2 separate regions of the Homo sapiens genome follow, and region 2 is linked to region 1. Evidence: fine-mapped expression QTL. A gene starts in region 1. The other region holds a variant in brackets. All regions are shown on one strand. Distances are from middle to middle.

Region 1 (8,456 bases):
TTCGGTCTGGGCTTGTGACTGCTGCTTAGTAAGCAATAGGATGACCCCTGGTGTTCACTTAAAATGACAGCAGGGCCGGGCTCACGCCTATAATCCCAGTACTTCGGAAGGCTGAGGTGGGCCGATCATTTGAGACCAGCCTGGCCAACATGGTGAAACCCTGTCTCTACTAAAGATACAAAAATTAGCCTGGCATGATGGCGCACGCCTATAATCCCAGCTACTGGAGAGGCTGAGGCACGAGAATAACCTGAGCCTAGGAAGCAGAGGCTGCAGTGGGCTGAGATCACATCACTGCACTCCAGCCTGGGCAACAGAGCAAGACTCTGTCTCCAACAACAACAACAACAAAAAACACACAAAACAAAAAAACCCGCAAATGACAGGATACCAGCTTGGTTGTTTAGCCATCTCTTATCCCCACAGATGGCTGACCCAACTACAAGCATTTCCAGGCAGAGTGAAAAAAATCAAGGGCCAGCAAGACTGGTGTTCGGAGGTGAGAGTCCTGAAAGAGAGTCCATCATGTGAGCAGTGGGCCTGAGTGAGGAGGCACACTTCTGGGCCGTGGTGCTCAGAGTGCAGAGCCTCTGCAGCGCAACACCTCCGAGGATAGGAAGGTCACAACCACCGAAGACATCTCTCCTGCTCGTGATTTTTAAAGCTGGGCCTCAGGTAGGCCCCAGTCTGCCTGCCTGTGTCGGTGCCGGTTCCACCCTCTGAGTGCTTCTCAGGGCCAAGCACTGCACTGTGCTGTGTTTTTTTGGACATGCACTAAACGTGGACCCTTCCGATGGCTCTCAGGTGGGCCCCGGGAGCCCTTCAGAGGTGTTCAACATGATTGGGTGACTGAATGAGATGGTTGGTCCGAATCCAGACAGCGAGTGGTGGCACACCAGGACTTGACCCAGACCACCCACTGCTCCCGCTAACTGCCACAGCCCACAACAGTTTCATCTTATCATACCCTCAGGTGGCGTCTACTGCTCACCTCCCCCAGGAATTCTTTGGGTGAGCTGTAGCCCATCCCATTCCCGTTTGGCCCCGCAGGGGACCCTCCAGGGTGCAGGGCTCCCCACACCTGCCCGCTGCACCTCATGCCTGTGTAGGATGCTGGAGGCAGATGCTCCCAGCACCCAACATCTGCACGTGCTCTGAAGGTTGAAAGAGCACTTACAGGGACAGCAGCCTAACCCTTTCCCCCGGAGTCATCTGTCCCTTCTGATGGGCCTTTTGCTTTTATAGAGAGATGCTCCCTGCAGTCGGGCTGGCAATGGCGACAGATAAATTCCATGTCTTACCTCACACCAACCGAATCAGAACCTCGAGGGCTTGTGACTCAGGAATCCATGATTTTAAAAACTTTCCGGCCAGGCACGGTGGCTCACACCTGTAATCCCAGCACTTTGGGAGGCTGAGGTGGGCAGACCACCTAAGGTCAGGAGTTCCAGACCAGCCTGGCCAACATGGTGAAACCCTGTCTCTACTAAAAATAGAAAAGTTAGCCGGGTGTGGTGGCAGGCGCCTGTAATCCCAGCTACTCAGGACAGTGAGGCAAGAGAATTGCTTGAACCCGGGAGGCGGAGATTGCAGTGAGCCAAGATCGCGCCATTGCACTCCAGCCTGGGGTACAAGAGCGAGACTTCGTTGCAAAAAAATAAAAATAAAAATAAAAACTTTCCCTAATAATGCTGACACAGCTCGGGGACAGATGGGGATTGGCAACCACCTAGGAACTGCAACCCCCTCACATGACAGACAAGGAAATAGAAACCAGAGAGGGGGATGACTTGCCAAAAGTAACACAGTGGTAGGAACTGGGCCCTGTCTAGAAGCCAGGCTTCCTGATTCTGGCTCCACCACACCAATATACCTCATCCCTATCTGGCCAAGGCCCTTCCCCACCACCTGGAACCAGTTACCTCTGCAAGCCAATAAGCTTCCACTTCTGAAAATCCATAATGTGCAAAGGGGAGGAGGCCCAATGTTTCACGGGCTTAGCGTAGCAGCCATAGCTGGGGACAAAGATAGCCAGTGCAGTCACGAGTTTCCTGACTATGGCCTCATCTTCCCCCAGGACCACAAGTGTCCTCCCACTGAGCAGGGAGTAGATGGCTGGGTGGGCAAAGGGGTACTGGCGGATGAATTTTAAGGCGTTCTGGCCAGCCCTCTTTTTATGCCTATCGGAAGACAGGCCAGCAGGATAAGCAGAGGGGATCCTGTCTGAGCTGGTGGACGCTACACTGCTCACGTAGCTGGTGGTGTCTGAGTAGTTGTCCAGGCTGGTCTTACTGATGTCCCGGCTAGCCAGCAGGTGGCTCGGGTCCAGCTCATAAGCGGGAAACCCTTCACAACTGTTGTCTCGGGAAGAAGGGTTGGCATTTTCCACTGAAAAGTCTACACGGAACCCCTGGTCCTTCTGCCTGTGGCGCTGTGGGGGGCTGCTCACCACCCCATCCTCGTCAGAGTGTGTGTGGGCTGGAGTGGAGGGCAGCACCAACTGACCATCGCTCTCCTTCCCAATACAGCAGGAGGAGTCTATTTGTGATGGGGTGTTTTCTATGCTGCCTTCCTCTGTCTCACCCAGTTCTGGAGGACTGATGCTTGCCTGGAAGCGGATGGCTCCTTCATTGCCATCTGGATATGATTCTTCTTCATTAATGGCACTTGGGTAGCTGGCCTTAAAGTCATCAGGGATGAGGGCCTCAGAGGGGCAGGTACTGAGGACTTCAATACTGTCCTCGCTGATGGTCCTGTGGCTGACTGCTTTGCTCCGGACCACCTGGGGGCTCAATGGTACTGTGAGGCTTGCCTGGCTGTCAGATTTAGAAAGCACGGAGGTGGATTTCTCCGTGCCCAAAACTTCAATACTTTCACCACTGCTGATACTCCCTTTCATATCCATATCCAGGTAGTCCAAGTTTTCCTGGGGGTCGAAACTGCTCAACTCAGTCACTTCCACTTCCTTGTACTCCTCATCTCCCAGTTCCTGCTCCATCTTGATCAACACAGACTCCACACTGGACTTGTAAGAACCAACACTAATTAACACTTTAGGAATTGGGCATTCTTCTAGAGAACTGGAAGGCGGCCTGTCTTGACTGGGCTTAGAGGGTATGCTTTCTTGTTTCTCCACCATCCTGTCATCGACCTCCACAAAGTCTTCAAAGAGAAAGTTTGTTATATGCTGTTGTTTTAGAAGTGCTCTATCAATCTGACTGGTCAGGAGGTAACACAGGTCTCCTCTGAACATGTGTTCAATGTGGCTGAGCTGAGCCAGGGTCTGGGTGAAATATTCAGTGTCACAGAGCTCCTCCAAGGTCTTCAACTTCTTGTCAAAACACTTGGTGGACTTTGCTTTGATAAGTTTTGGGGTGTAGGCTGGTCTGCAGGTGTAAAGGTCTGTGTCGGCAGACTCATCAGGGTTAGAGGTAGTGGATGCCTGGCTGGCCTGATCCTGGATGTGCTCCATCTCACCAGGACACAAATCATGCCCCTTCAACTTCCGATGAGGGTATGAGCGGATCTGCTTCAGCAGGTCTTGATGTTCAATGATGGACTTCTCCACACTGGCCAGTTCATTGGCTTTCTCAATTGCCTGAGATGAGTAAAAGCCTTTGTCGTTGGCTTTCTTCTGGATCTCCGTTTCTGTGTGTAGCACTGTCCTGGTGTAATCCAAGTCTTTCAGCTTTTTTTCAAGTTCCCCAGCAAATGCCTTCCTGTTGCCAGTCTTCAAGCACTCAGAAGCTCTGGAAAATTCGGCTGAAAGCTCCTGGAACTGCTGCATGATTTTATGCTGGTCTGCAGAGATATAAGCCATGCAAAACGGCCTCACGAAGCCACGGGCCTCCAGGTCGTATAGGGTAAGGTGGTGCACGTATGCAAAGGCGCCCTCCTTAGAATCTCCCAGCACCACCTTGGAGTCCTCCACGAAGTTCAGCTTGGGGTAGGCAGATCCAGGAGGATGGCCCACGAAGGAAGCCTGGTAATCCACAGACATGATACGCAGGGAGAAGTAATTGAGATCAAAAGTGCCAAAAACTTTGGTGTCATTGGGGATGGTCAGTAAGGGTTGGGGTCCCACCTGCTCAGAGAACTCGGAAATAAGAATGAAGTCCCTCGAAAACTTGGCCCCGGACAGTTTTGACCAGGGGTTAGCACCCTGACTGGCGAAGGGGAAGAGCGGCACCGAGTACTCCTCAGGCAGGGCCGGCTCATTGTAAGGCTCTTCTTCATACTCTTCCTCTTTGGTGAAGGCCACTACGTCAGGGGCGCTGATCATATTTCCAGATATATGAAGAAAACATTGAGAGGAAGTGGGAAAGAATGCGGTGTTAATCGACGCGCAGAAGGCAGGCCTCCGGAGAAGGAAGTGAAGCCCTTACGGCCTTCTTTGCGACTCCCCGAACCCGGGGTCCTAGGCTGCTTCTCACACACCCGAGGAGAAGAACTCTAGCAGCCCCCTCACAGTTGTAGCTCCTCCGGAGCTCTCTGAGGCCTCATGAACGCCAAGGCCGCAGGCCCAACTGCCCTTCTCTTCTTCGTCCGGCGAGCGCGGCCAGCACAAGAAACCTGCTGCGAAATCACCTGCACTCTCCGGAACCCACTGCGACAGCAAAAGCCCCCGCTCTGAACAAGGCTTAACGCGAGGCTACGGGACGCCGCAGGGGTCAGCCAAGCGCTGCTGCCCCTCACTGCCCGAGGGCAGAAACCGTCGCGGCTCCTAGGACGCCACAACCCGGATCCTGCTACCGCGGCGCCGCCATCTTGACATCACATGACTCCTGGTGTCCGCGCCGCGTGACCCGGAAGCGTCCTCGTAGACTTCCGAGCAGGAGATTAAAAAGTCATGAGAAAGAGGCCTTGGATGGGAGTGTCTGGCGGCTCCCCGCAAGAAGGAGTCCGATTAACCAACCACTGCCGGGAAGGAGGGGAAAGAGGGGCGGAGTGAGACGGGGGCGGCGGGAAGGTGGCAGAGGGGAACGTGCTTGGACGAGGGGCGCGGGACAGTCTGGGAGTTGTAGTTCCAGGTCGCTGTGGGGCGCGCGCCTGGCGGAAGTAGCTGGAGAAGGCGGGCGGAAGTTCCACGCCAAGATACTGGATTCGGTGCTGAGGCGGCGGCTGCGGCACGGGAAAGGCTCAGTGACTGAAGCTCCAAAGGCCAGCAGGCTGGTGGGGACGTGACCGAAGCGAGGCTCTGGTTCCCTTTCGGTGGGCGCCATTTGAGCCTCATCTCTGGCTTCCCCAGGATGCGCCGGCAGCCGGGGAGCGGCTCCGGGCGCGAGGTCTGAGGATGATCTTTCCTGTCGCCCGCTACGCGCTCCGGTGGCTGCGACGGCCCGAAGACCGTGCCTTTTCCCGCGCCGCCATGGAGATGGCCCTCCGAGGCGTGCGGAAAGTCCTCTGTGTGGCCGAAAAAAACGACGCGGCCAAGGGGATCGCCGACCTGCTGTCAAACGGTCGCATGAGGCGGGTAAGAAAGCGCGTTCCGATCAGCTGCGTGCCTTAAGGGAGGCCCACCGAGCGGGACAGCGTGGTGGGCGCCAAGAATCGAGATGAAGGCGATTATCTCCCATTTCTCAGGCCTCACTGCCCCTCGTCTGGATTATTGCAGTGGCCTCCTGTCTGCTCTCGGACTGGAGTGCATTTTAAAACGTAGTTGATACATCTCACTCATTTGCGTGGAAACCTTTTGTTTTGCTTGCGCTTAGCAGGTTCCCAAACTTGTCTGATTCTCGGAATCGCCTCGGGCGCTGGCTGCCCTTCGGGTCTTGTGTGAGGCTGGGGAAGTGTGTATTTTACTGTTTTTCCCTAGAGATTCAGAAATTCATTTGGGAACTACTGACCAGATTCCCTTAACTTGGCATTCAAGCCCTGCCCGATCGTTCCCCAGCCAACCTAGCCCTCCCCATCCTGTGCCACAGCCACTGCATTCTACAGCCCTTGTGACTTTCCAGCCTCACAGTGCACACTTACAGCAACACGGTAAGGTTTGGGGATTAGATTTGAAGTCAGCCCTGTTCCTACCCGAATGAACTGATTCTGAGAGAGGTAAGTGGTAAGAATGTGTTCTACACACACGGGAGGCACAAACGCAAGGGAGGATAAGAAAAAGTTTCATAAAGGAGGTGCCACGGGAGACATAAAGAGCTGTCCAGGAAAATATCTCAGATAACAAAAGTAGATCCTGAAATGGTTTTCTGGAGAACTTTTCTAAGAGCATGGGTGGAAGTTCCCTGCTCATTTTTCTTTAGTTCCCAGGGTCCTAAGACCTGTTTCCAGATCAAGGATAGTGGGAGTGGAGCCAGGGTTGTGTGAATGCTGGCTGACAGCTTTACCTGTTTCCAGTGCTAGAAGTCCTGGTGACCAGCCCCAAGGTTTGTCTACTTCTAGACAATGAAGTAGACATTGAAAAATGGTTCTCCTACGCCTAACTTCTTATCCTTCAAGGCTCTGCTGAATTCATTCTCTCTCTCTCCCTTTTTTTTTTTTTTTTTTAAGCAATCCAGAGGTCTTGTATTTATCTATTTTTACCCTATCATACCATGAATCCATAGGGAATAGGTTCCAGCGGCTCAGGCTCTTTTCCATTGGTTCTCACAAAGTGTACTTCCCTCAATGGAACAGGCTGGCACTTCAGGTGAACCCTTTCTCTTTGACTTGCTTCTTTTTTGATCATTTTCCTTCACACATTTCAGGAAAGATCTTGGTTCTTAGAGTGCTTAATATGCTCAATAGAAACATTAATTCTTTGGGCAAGAATCTAGCCCTTGTTCGCAGCAGTGCCAACAGCATGCTGGGTAACATAGACTTTTCCAGTTCTGCCATGTAACATTTGTGGGTCATTCCCTTTTGAACAGTATGCATTCTCACGAAGTCCTCAATATCACCTTCATTGTAGATTCTGGTGTCTGTGGCCAGAGAAACTCCATATTTTTGTTTTGTTTTGTTTGTTTGTTTTGAGATGGAGCTTTGCTCTTGTTGCCCAGCCTGGAGTGCAATGGTGTGATCTCAGCTCACTGCAACCTCCGCCTCCCGGGTTCAAGCGATTCTCCTGCCTCAGCCTCCCTAGTAGCTGGGATTACAGGTGCCTGTCACCATGCCCAGCTAATTTTTTGTATTTTTAGTAGTTTCACTGTGTTGGCCAGGATGGTCTTGAACTCCTGACTTCAGGTGAGCCACCCGCCTTAGCCTCCCAAAGTGTTAGGGTTACAGGCGTGAGCCACCGTGCCCAGCTCGAACTCCATGTTTTCTATAAGGCCAGGAGAACATACATCAGATGCCTCGTCCTCTTTTCCTTTGTGTTCGTCATTTTGGCAAATTACTCCAAGATGGCAGTTCCAGCCAAAAGGAAAGACTTTTCTTGGAAAGAGAATTTTTATTTTTATGTACAGAAAACACAACAGTGTGTACTTAACCCAGTTTAGTGGCAAATTCTTTAGCCTTTGCCTTTTCTAGGTTGGTAATGCAAGCTACAGATTTTGGACCCAGGGCATTGCCTCCCCAGTGACAGCAGATCTCATATGTCGTTGTAATTTGTCCCACCAGCTTAGCCAGAGCTCCTTTGTCTACCAGAAAGTTAACCTTTGTGAAGGTGACAGTGGTGCAGGTCTTCCTGTGGAATTTGACACCACAGTCTTGACGGTGCAGTAGAGAATCCCCATCTTAGGACACAGCACAGGCAGGAAGACAACCAGCTCAATGGGATCCACCACCAGCTGACCCTTCATGCTCTCTACCAAGTTGGTGACGGTGTCAACCCCTGCTCGAAGTGTAGGTGGTCTCTTAGTAGCGACATCCCCTTTGCTGGAAGCTTTCTTCTCAGCCTGGGCCAACGGTTTCGATCTCATCCCTTGCTCTGTCTCTTGTCTGTACTGTGGGCCAGCTTAAGCAATTGAGTAGCTTAAGTTTGGTAGTCTGAGGCCTGGGTGAACTGGTCAATCCCAGGTGGCACATCAGCCACTTATAGAGTACAGCGGCTCTGCCGCAGCAGCCATTTATAGCGGGACTATTTGACAAAGTGGGTGAGGCCCTTAGGCTAGATATCCAATGCCAAAATTATTAGGGCTTTTCTCAAATGGGATTTACCACCTTTTTGGCCTACTGCTGCTCCATGACAACAGGGGCCAGGGCCACTTCTTCCCCTTGGCCATCTTTCCTTTTGGCATCTGGGGCGGCTAGAGGAGAGAGGCTGCTGAAATGTCTCATCTTCAAGGAATCCTTCCCTCACCACCTGTTCCCCCACACTAGGTCAGAGACCCTTACTGACATGCTGTCATAGCACTCTATTCTACTTGAAAGGCATCTACTAGTTACAGTTAAATAATGGGATGTGCGATCATTTATTTGATTTTTGTCACTGCCTCTCCTTGGACTCTAAACTCCAAAGGACAGTGATTATATTTTGTTAATTGCTATGTCCTAACGCCTAATATGGTGTCTGGAATGCAGGAAAC
Region 2 (9,033 bases), 74 kb after region 1:
GTTTGACACCTCCTACAGCAAGCAGGTCAGGAGGCGGGCGGGCAGGCGGGCACACACAGAGGAGCCAGGGCAGGCAGGGGCCCTGGGCTGGACTGGCCTTTCCCGCAGGTTATCAACGAAGGTGAGGAGCCTGAGAACTTCTTCTGGGTGGGCATTGGGGCACAGAAGCCCTATGATGACGATGCCGAGTACATGAAACACACACGTCTCTTCCGGTGAGGCCAGGGCCCTGACCCTCCCCTCAGTCCTGGCACTGCTGCTTATGACCTCTGGCCTCACCTTGACCCTTGATTCCCAGGTGCTCCAACGAGAAGGGCTACTTTGCAGTGACTGAGAAATGCTCCGACTTTTGCCAAGATGACCTGGCAGATGATGACATCATGTTGCTAGACAATGGCCAAGAGGTGTGATGTTGCCACTAGCCCTGCCCATCCAAGGAGGCGCCCATAGACTTACTTACAAATGGGAATTCTCGGGCCAGGAGCAAGGGGCTGTTCCCAGGCACCCATGCAACCGTATCTCCCCTGCTGCCCCCACAGGTCTACATGTGGGTGGGGACCCAGACTAGCCAGGTGGAGATCAAGCTGAGCCTGAAGGCCTGCCAGGTAATCTGGGTGGAGGGAGGGCCGAGGTGGGCCTGTGGGCAGGGCAGGGTCATCACCCAAGGCTCGCTGTCCCCTTGCCAGGTATATATCCAGCACATGCGGTCCAAGGAACATGAGCGGCCGCGCCGGCTGCGCCTGGTCCGCAAGGGCAATGAGCAGCACGCCTTTACCCGCTGCTTCCACGCCTGGAGCGCCTTCTGCAAGGCCCTGGCCTAAGACAGGCTGGCACAGCCCCAGGCTTGGTGAGGAAGAGGAAGGGGCCTCATCCACTGTCTGCTAGCAAAGAATGTACTCAGGTGACACCACCTGCTCCAGCCACGTCCAGTGCCACAGTCCCCAGTAGCCTCAAGCAGCACCAATGGGGATGACCCTGACAGGTGCCCTCAGGGGTCTGGGAAATCCAACTCTCTCCACAGTGTGAGTGCACGTGTGAAGCCCCCTCACTCTTCCGCTAGGGATAAAGCAGATGTGGATGCCCTTTAAGAGATATTAAATGCTTTTATTTTCAATATTAAAAATCAGTATTTTTAATATTAAAATGGCGCTAATTTTAACAAAACGACAGAAAAAAACCCCAAGGTACAATCTACAGGGAAACTCATCTTGACCCCCCCCCCTGCCCCCCCCCCCCGCCGGACACACACACCTGACTAGGCCCCAGATGTGGGTGCCCAGCAGAGCTCCCAGTCACATCCATGCCCGCACACACACACTCATGACAGGCTGGGGACTGGCCCAGAAGCAGGTACCAAAATAGTTTAGTTTTAGAAACAACTGTCCAGCCCAGGCGCTAGAAAAATACTCTTTGCAGGGCTGGGCATGGTGGCTCACGCCTGTAATCCCAGCACTTTGGGAGGCTGAGGTGGGTGGATCACGAGGTCAGGAGATCGAGACCATCCTGGCTAACATGGTGAAACCCCATCTCTACTAAAAATACAGAAAAAATTAGCTGGGCGTGGTGGTGGGCGCCTGTAGTCCCAGCTACTTGGGAGGCTGAGGCAGAAGAATGGCGGGAACCCAGAAGGCGGGGCTTGCAGTGAGCAGAGATGGGGCCACTGCACTCCAGCCTGGGCGACAGAGCAAGACTCCGTCTTTAAGAAAAAAAAAAAAAAGGAAAAATACTCTGCAAAGTGAGGGGGAAGGATGGTGTGTGGAGGGGGGGAGGTGGCACAGGTGCTGGGCCCCACCTGTCCTCTTCCCTAGGCAGTGGGCCCCCAGGGCAGCCAAATGCCTGCAGGAGGGCTCAGTTCTGGCCCAGGTCCCAGGCCCACACCCTGGGGCTGGTGCTGCTCCAGGGCCCAGGGTCAGGCGGGACAGGACAGCAGGTCCCAGTGGAGCCTACAGGTTAGCAGGCGTGGTTCTATGTTAAGGGGCCAGGCAGGTGCCAGGGATCCAGCACTCCAGCTCCGAGCAGGGCAGGTGGAGGTCGGGATAGTTCTGGCCTTCCTGGAAGAGGGAGAGAAGAGGTATCAGCAGAAGGTGAGGGAGGGCAAAAGGGCAGATGGATTGCCACAGCGGCCAGACCACACAGGTGCTGCCACTGTCTCCTCTGCAGGGCAGGCATGGCCCTTCAGTGACCACCTGAGATGGGCTTGCTGAGTCTCCAGATGGGTATCCAAGCGCCAGGCCACATATGCCCCACTGAGGCCAGGGAGAGGCACCAGACAAAGAGCTGGGAGGTGTCCATGTCCTGTGCAGGGTGAGGCTATGGCCTACAGTCAGGTGCCTGGGAACATGAGGCAGCAAATGCGCTGGGCAGATCTATGGGCCCCACATCTAGGTGAGGATCCACAGACTCAGGCAGGGGTAAGTCAGCCACTTGCTGGGCCCAACCGATGAGACCTGACCTCGTGCACCTCAGTGATCTCATCTATGAAACAGGCTGGCCAAACCAGCTCCCAAGCCCCAAACTACTGCCACCTCTAAGTGGTTTAATCTGGTCTTGTTGGCCGGGTGCGGTGGCTCACGCCTGTAATCCCAGGACTTAGGGAGGCCGAGGCGGGTGGATCATGAGGTCAGGAGATCGAGACCATCCTGGCTAACACAGTGAAACCCCGTCTCTACTAAAAACACAAAAAATTAGCTGGGTGTGGTGGCGGGCGCCTGTAGTCCCAGCTGCTCAGGAGGCTGAGGCAGGAGAATGGCATGAACCCAGGAGGCAGAGGTTGCAGTGAGCCAAGATCACGCCACTGCACTCCAGCCTGGGCGACAGAGCAAGACTCCGTCTCAAAAACAAAACAAAACAAAACAAAACAAAACAAATCTGGTCTTGTCCTAACCACCACCTGTCACATGCAAGGGCTGAGGGGCTGGCCCTGCTTTTCTAATACCCAACCATGACACTGGTGTCTGTGTGAGCACCAGAAGTCCCCAATTGAGGCACTCCATGGAAGGCAGCCAGGTTTCAGAGAGTGCCATCACATGGGCCTGCCAGGGTCTCAGGTAGAAGACCAGGGCCAAATGGTACCCAGACGGGCTGAAGGGGGTGGACGTCACCAGTGGTGAGGACCAGGGCCCCACCCCTGCAGCACCTCATTTGATCAGGATGGCACAGGCGTGGGCCTCGTCTTCTGCCAGGTTCCTCAGGTTCTTCTCTGACTCCTCAGAGGAGCTGCGAGATGGGGATGGTGCTCAGGGGTGGGGGCGGGGGAGCCCCTGGCAGCCCTGGGGACGGAGGCCTAGGGGACAGGGCAGCCCCCCCTGTGGACCTGCCCACCAGCCTCACCCCAGGAAATCCTTCACATCTTCCACTGTGACGTCCCCTGTCGTGTCCAGCGTGGTGTCAGCACTGGTGGCTGAGTCGATGGACATGGGTGAGAGTGCAGCCTCGGGTGGCTCCGGGGTGTCTACAGGGAGCAAGTCATCAGCCCCTACCAGGACCCTTAGCACCCTCTGCACCTGGGGGCCTAGGGACACAGACCCATAAGGCAGCCCATGGTGAGGGGTGGCACCAGTGAGCACACAACCACCCATCTCCTACAGAAGCCTGCCCGATCCCTGAGCTATGTGAGTCCCGACTCCCTCCCCCAGGGCACCGTGGGGCCAGGGTCTGGACCCCTTTCATGCCCCCCTCACCAGGTCCCATGCTGTGGGCTGGATCAGGGCTTCCATCAAGGCTCTGTGGGGCCAGCAGGATGCTTGGGGTCCCGTTAGCCTGGCTCAGCTTGGGTGACTCTCGGATCCTGTAACTGCAGAGATGGGGCCATGATGGGGACCATAGGTGGATGACTTGAGGCTGGCACGCTAGATCCTTGCCCTCCCACTCCTGAGCCCAGGGAAGGCAGATCTCGGGGGTGGGATGAGACCTGGCCCTGGGCACAGGTCCCCCAGGCTAGGAGCTGCCCCTCCACACACCTGGCCTGGGTGGCATCGCGGGGCCAGTTAATGTCCAGAGAGCAGAGCGGCTCTGTGATGTTCCGGGCACTTAGGGAGAAGCGTTCAAATTCTGATGGGGATATCAGGTAAAAGCCTGGGTGGGCAGAAGAATGAGGAGTGCAGTTAGAAGATACCACCAACCACAGCTCCTCCGTGGCCTGGGCCTGTGCCCACCTGGAGTGCCCTTCCTGCTCCCAAGCAGTACTGGTCCCACTCAGTTCGCTCGCCTGAGGAAGGCCTCCTCGGCCTCTGCCCCGCCTCACCCTGGCCATGGCGCGTAAAGACGCACGAAGCGATGCCGCTGATGTCCTCCTTCCGGATGCAGGAATAGTGCACCTGGGGCCGCAGGCCAGGCACCGAGAAGACGTGGACGTCACCCAGGTTGGTGAGGCAGGCCAGGCAGGTCTCAGCATAGTCCTCGCAGGCCACACTGGCAAACGTGGCCAGTGCCACCTTGCGCACACGACAGCCCTCATGGGCCGTCAGCTTGAACTTGGTCTTCGCGCTCACCTTGGGCAGTGTGAACACCTGACAGCAGGTGGCTGGTGAGCACAAAGCCTGGCCCTGTCCTCGTCCCCAGGGCCCCTCACCCTCGTGG[C/T]TGCTGACCCAACAGCCCCCACCACAAAGCCCAGCTGCATGCTACGTGGCCTCCCGTGCCTGTACACCTGGCTGCCCCACTAAACTCCAGACTTCACACTGTACTCCAGAAACCTCCCAGGCCCTCTCTCGATCTGTGACAAAATCAATCACAGAGTTATGCCAAGGTTATGCAGCTGGTATCCCCATCAAACCTCGAGTTCTTTCGAGGCAGAGCCCCTGGGGACTGGGCTCAGGGGTCTGGGCCCAGTACAGGAGCCTTGTGTGGCACAGTGAGATAGGACTAGATTCCTGCCCTCCCAGGGGAACTCAGCAGGCTGAGGGGGCATCAGGGTTCTTGGGTAGGAGTTCTCTGCTGGCTGGGAGTGTTTTCTGGGGTGCAAGGGAATTAGGGTCCCAACAGTGGGGGATACAGGCAGGAAGGGTTTCTTGAGGGTCCAATGGTGTCCATGAGGTTGGGGCCTGGAGGGGAGTCCCCCAGAGTCCCCCACAGCCCACAGTGGCTCACCTTGAACTGCTCCTCAGATGCGATGAGCACAGCGTGACCACCCTGCATGTCAGGTGCCTGCGCCAGGTCCCGTGAGGCCTCGTAGGGCTCGGGCAGTGGGCGGCCACGCCCGTCCAACACGGCAATGGCCACCACAGGCGCCCGGTGCATCAGCTGCACCTCCTTGCCCAGCACGGCCTCCACCGCTTGCTCAGGCCGCTTCTCACCACCCACTGCTGCTGCCGGCACCTCCAGTGCATAGGCGAACACAGAGCCTGAGTTGGTGCCAGCCCACATGGTGGGCCCGTGGTGGGCCCCTGCAGAAAACAAGCGCGTAGGAGGGTGCTCCCTGTGGGCCAGGCATCTCCCCTGGGGTCTTCCCACAGACTGCAGGTCCCTCCCTGCCTCTCTTGTAGCCCTGCTTCCTAACTATGACACCCTGGGACTCAGGGCTGATTCCCTCCTGCCCCATGCCTCCCTGGTGACCTCCAGCCTCGAGGCCTGAGACCCCAGCTCTATGCTGCTGACTGCAGTCGGAGCCCAGGATGCAGCCCTCCTGCAGAGGCCCGAACAGCTGTAGCGCATCTGCACAGAATGCTGATGGGCACCCAAACCAGACCTCCAGCCCCATCCCACTGCACCCTCAGCCCCCATCTCAGTAAACGCAGCTCCATCCTAGCATCACTCAGGCCCCAAGCCCCACAAGACCCCGACTCCTCTCTCCACCCCTGCGTCCCCTTGCTAGTCCTGTCGACAGGTGTGCCTTGTCTTAGCCCTGCTTCACCCCCACTGTCTTCAGTGTGCTCCCTACGTGGCAGCCAGAGGAAGCCGCCAAGCCTGGGGACACCTAGGACGACCATCCATCGACCCTGCTCTGCCTGTGTGAACTGAACCTCTGGGTGACAAGCTTTAGTGGAGAATCAGAGCCCAGCCCAGCAGAAGCAAGAGCAGACTCGGCACCTGCTCCCTGATGACCCGATGGATCCTGAGGCATTAAGTGTCTGCACAACTCAAAACATGCCCAACAGGAACCCCAGCCGGCCATGAACATGAACCCATCGGCCTTCTCGGGCCAGTGGAACAAGTTAAAAACCCCAGGCTCTCCTCTTCTAGGTCTTTGTAGTCAAAAAAAACAAAAAGTCAAAGAACCCCCCACCCCCAGCTGCACCCGCCACATCCAGACAGTGAGAAAATCCACTGCACAAAGACCCTCGACAAATAAATGGCATCAGAAAGCTGAGCTCGTAGACCAAGCAGATGACACTCAGGAATTCACATTGGTTCTACAGGGCATGATGTGAGCAGTGGCTGTCAGTGACATCTGTCAGGAACATGCTGAAGTACTTGTATCTGGGTTTTCATTTAAAATACCCCGGCAAAAAAAACAGCAAAGAATGTGGAGGAGGGGGGCAGAATCCGCAGGGGCACATGGCTGGTGGCAGGCATGTGAGGTATGTGGGACAACTTTGCACCTCTCTATTTTTGTGTATGTTTGAAACTCTCCCATTGTACAAGTTCAAAATCAATCAGTGACTCAATCAACAAATCCAGGACCTTCCCAGGGCTCCCAGGCCACTGAGAATCAAAGCCAGGTCCTCAGCCTCTGGCCAGCAGCAGTATCTCCCTGAACCACACACCTCGACCCTCACCTGCTCCACTCCAGCCAAGTGGCTGGGCAGCTGCCCACACACATGCCCGGCTCGGGGCCTGGGCACTGGCTGGTGCCCCTCACCGTCATCCACCAGGCCTCAACCTCCCTTCTCCTGGCTCAGATCTGAGAGGCCCACCCAGCTCACTCAAAAATCCTTTACCATCCAGCTCCCCCAGAGAGACTGGGGGTGACCCAGCAGTCCCCCTGGGAGAGCTGGATGGTAAGCTTTTTTTCTGAGAAGGTCTCACTCTGTTGCACAGGCTGGAGTGCAGTGGTACGATCTCGGCTCACTGCAACCTCCGCCTCCCACGTTCAAGCAATTCTCCTGCCTCAGCCTCCCAAGTAGCTGGGATTACAGGCGCCCGCCACCACACCTGGCTAATTTTTGTATTTTTAGTAGAGACGAGGTTTCACCATGTTGGCCTGGCGGGTCTCAAACTCCTGACCTCAGGTGATCCGCCCACCTCGGCCTCCCAAAGTGCTGGGATCACTCACAGGCTTGAGCCACCGTGCCCAGCCACCTCCTGGAAGGTGCAGTCCCACCACCTCCCTTGCCACCACCCATCTCCCAGGTGGCCAATTGAGGCCAGCCCCCCCAACCCTTGCCCTGTCCCTGCCCCTGCCCCTGCCTTACCATCTCGAAGGAATGTGTCGGCAAAGTATAGGCAACGCACGACACCCGACAAGGAGTCATCGGCAGAGCGGGGCTCAATGCGGCGCTGCACGGGCGTCATCTCCACGTCGTGGGGGCAGGCCTGCTCAGCCAGCTGTGCATTGGCTTCCTGCAACTGCCGGGCGGGGGCTCCTGAACACTGTCTCCCTAGCACCCCAGTGGCTTGCATCCTGCTTTGCGCCCTACGTTCTGTTACCATTCCTCTACCACCCAGCTTAGTTCACCCATCCCTCTGGAGGGCCCAGGGGCTGCCGAGGGAGGAGCACTGAGCTAAGCAGGCCCCAGGGGTCCCAGGCCAGAGCCAGGCCAAGGCACAGGACACAGGCACAGCTCCTGTGCAGCCCACCCCAGCTCACCTTGCTGCTGGCATTAGCAGCCCGCTTCTTGCCAGAGACACGACTCTTGCGAATGCGCCGGAAAGACTGGCGCAGTGACTTCTTGAGAGACTTCACCCGGGAGAGCGGACCCTCCATGGCCAGGGAGTCATTGGGGTGAAGAGTGCACCTGGGGGAAGACAGGGTCCAGTCGTGCTATAGAGCAGCCTCCTGGGGCAGCCACCACACTCCTGCTGGCCTGTGGAGGCACCCAGGTCAGGGAGTCACAGCCCCTCTGGCGCAGTCCTATGGACCCAGCTGCAGGTGGTACTGAGAATGTCCTTCTTGGAGCTGCCAGGTTATTTCTTATAGGGCAATGGAGGTTAGTGGCCTTTGCCACACCAAACACTAGAGGTGGAAACGGAAGCCCAGACCCCATCTCGCTGGGGGCTCCAACTGCCCAGCCGGCCCCACCCCACACACCTGGCCAGCACAGGGCTCTTGCGCTGGTAGTCGAAGAGGCCAAAGCCATGACTGGTGCCAAAAGCCACGAGGCTCCACTCGGTGTGGAGTGTGACAGCGGTTACAGCAGCTGGCGGCAGGCACTGCACCAGGACACGGGGCTGGAAGCCAGCAGGCCAGGGCAGCGGCCCCGTGCGTGGGCTCAGCCGCTCGTGGCCCTTCCATGTGAAGCCCTCGCGGTCCTGGAGGAGGTCTATGATGGCCACGCTGACCGCCTGCTCCACCGGCACATCACTAAGCTCCAGTACCAGCACCTGAGCCCACAGCCAGGCAGGGGGAGCATCAGCGCAGGGGAGGGGCCGCCCTGGGCCCCACTCAGCCTGGAGCCTCTGAAGCAGCCCCAGCCACCACCAAGGTGGTTCTAGGACTGTCTTCAGTTCATCAGCTAAACAAGCACTCACTGAATGCCTACTGTATACCAAGGCCCTGGCTGAGCACAAGGAACACAGTGGTGACCAAGACACACTAGTCCCTGCCCTCTGAGGGCAAAGTGTCCACCCTTACCCTGAGCCTCTATCTCCCATTTAGCAATAAGGACACATTGAGCACCTCCTGTATGTCATGTGAGTGCCGGAGCACAGCACTGACATGAGTTCCCTCCTCTCAACACTGTGGTTCCCCCAGCGACAGGCCCACTTCCCATCTGTCCTCACCCCAGCCAGCCCCACCCAGAGCCCTATTCCCACCTTGGCTTTTGCCTGTGCCAGTCCATCTCCCTTTCCACCAGACCCTCCAGCTCATCTCTTCCAGAAAGCCCTCCCTGACATCTCCAACCCAGGGGACACCCAGCCCTACCTGGCCTGCAGTGC

What was found. PIP is the estimated chance that this variant, and not a neighbour inherited with it, causes the effect.
Region 2: its variant is fine-mapped to the expression of SMCR8 in whole blood (INTERVAL, PIP above 0.99).

Annotation. Positions count from the first base shown.
Region 1 is chr17:18,311,616-18,320,071 of GRCh38, reverse strand. SMCR8 (SMCR8-C9orf72 complex subunit) reads right to left here and starts at 4,779. Exons shown (of 2, transcript NM_144775.3): 1 at 1,923-4,779. The coding sequence starts at 4,282. TOP3A (DNA topoisomerase III alpha) reads left to right here and starts at 5,078. Exons shown (of 19, transcript NM_004618.5): 1 at 5,078-5,473. The coding sequence starts at 5,294. It also overlaps the pseudogene RPL7AP65 and the pseudogene RPL21P121. RefSeq lists enhancers at 4,719-4,768, 4,458-4,981, 5,109-5,458, 5,469-5,558, 5,506-6,029 and a silencer at 4,909-4,958.
Region 2 is chr17:18,236,926-18,245,958 of GRCh38, reverse strand. LLGL1 (LLGL scribble cell polarity complex component 1) reads right to left here. Exons shown (of 23, transcript NM_004140.4): 13 at 9,020-9,033; 14 at 8,186-8,478; 15 at 7,745-7,892; 16 at 7,350-7,503; 17 at 5,086-5,381; 18 at 4,244-4,508; 19 at 3,960-4,074; 20 at 3,681-3,793; 21 at 3,331-3,451; 22 at 3,137-3,216; 23 at 1,084-2,051. The coding sequence ends at 3,138. FLII (FLII actin remodeling protein) reads left to right here. Exons shown (of 30, transcript NM_002018.4): 26 at 1-25; 27 at 109-215; 28 at 299-404; 29 at 540-605; 30 at 687-1,144. The coding sequence ends at 821. Among named protein-coding and RNA genes, the nearest start is that of LLGL1, 16 kb to the right of the region's middle. The variant C/T (reference allele first, on the strand shown) is at 4,579.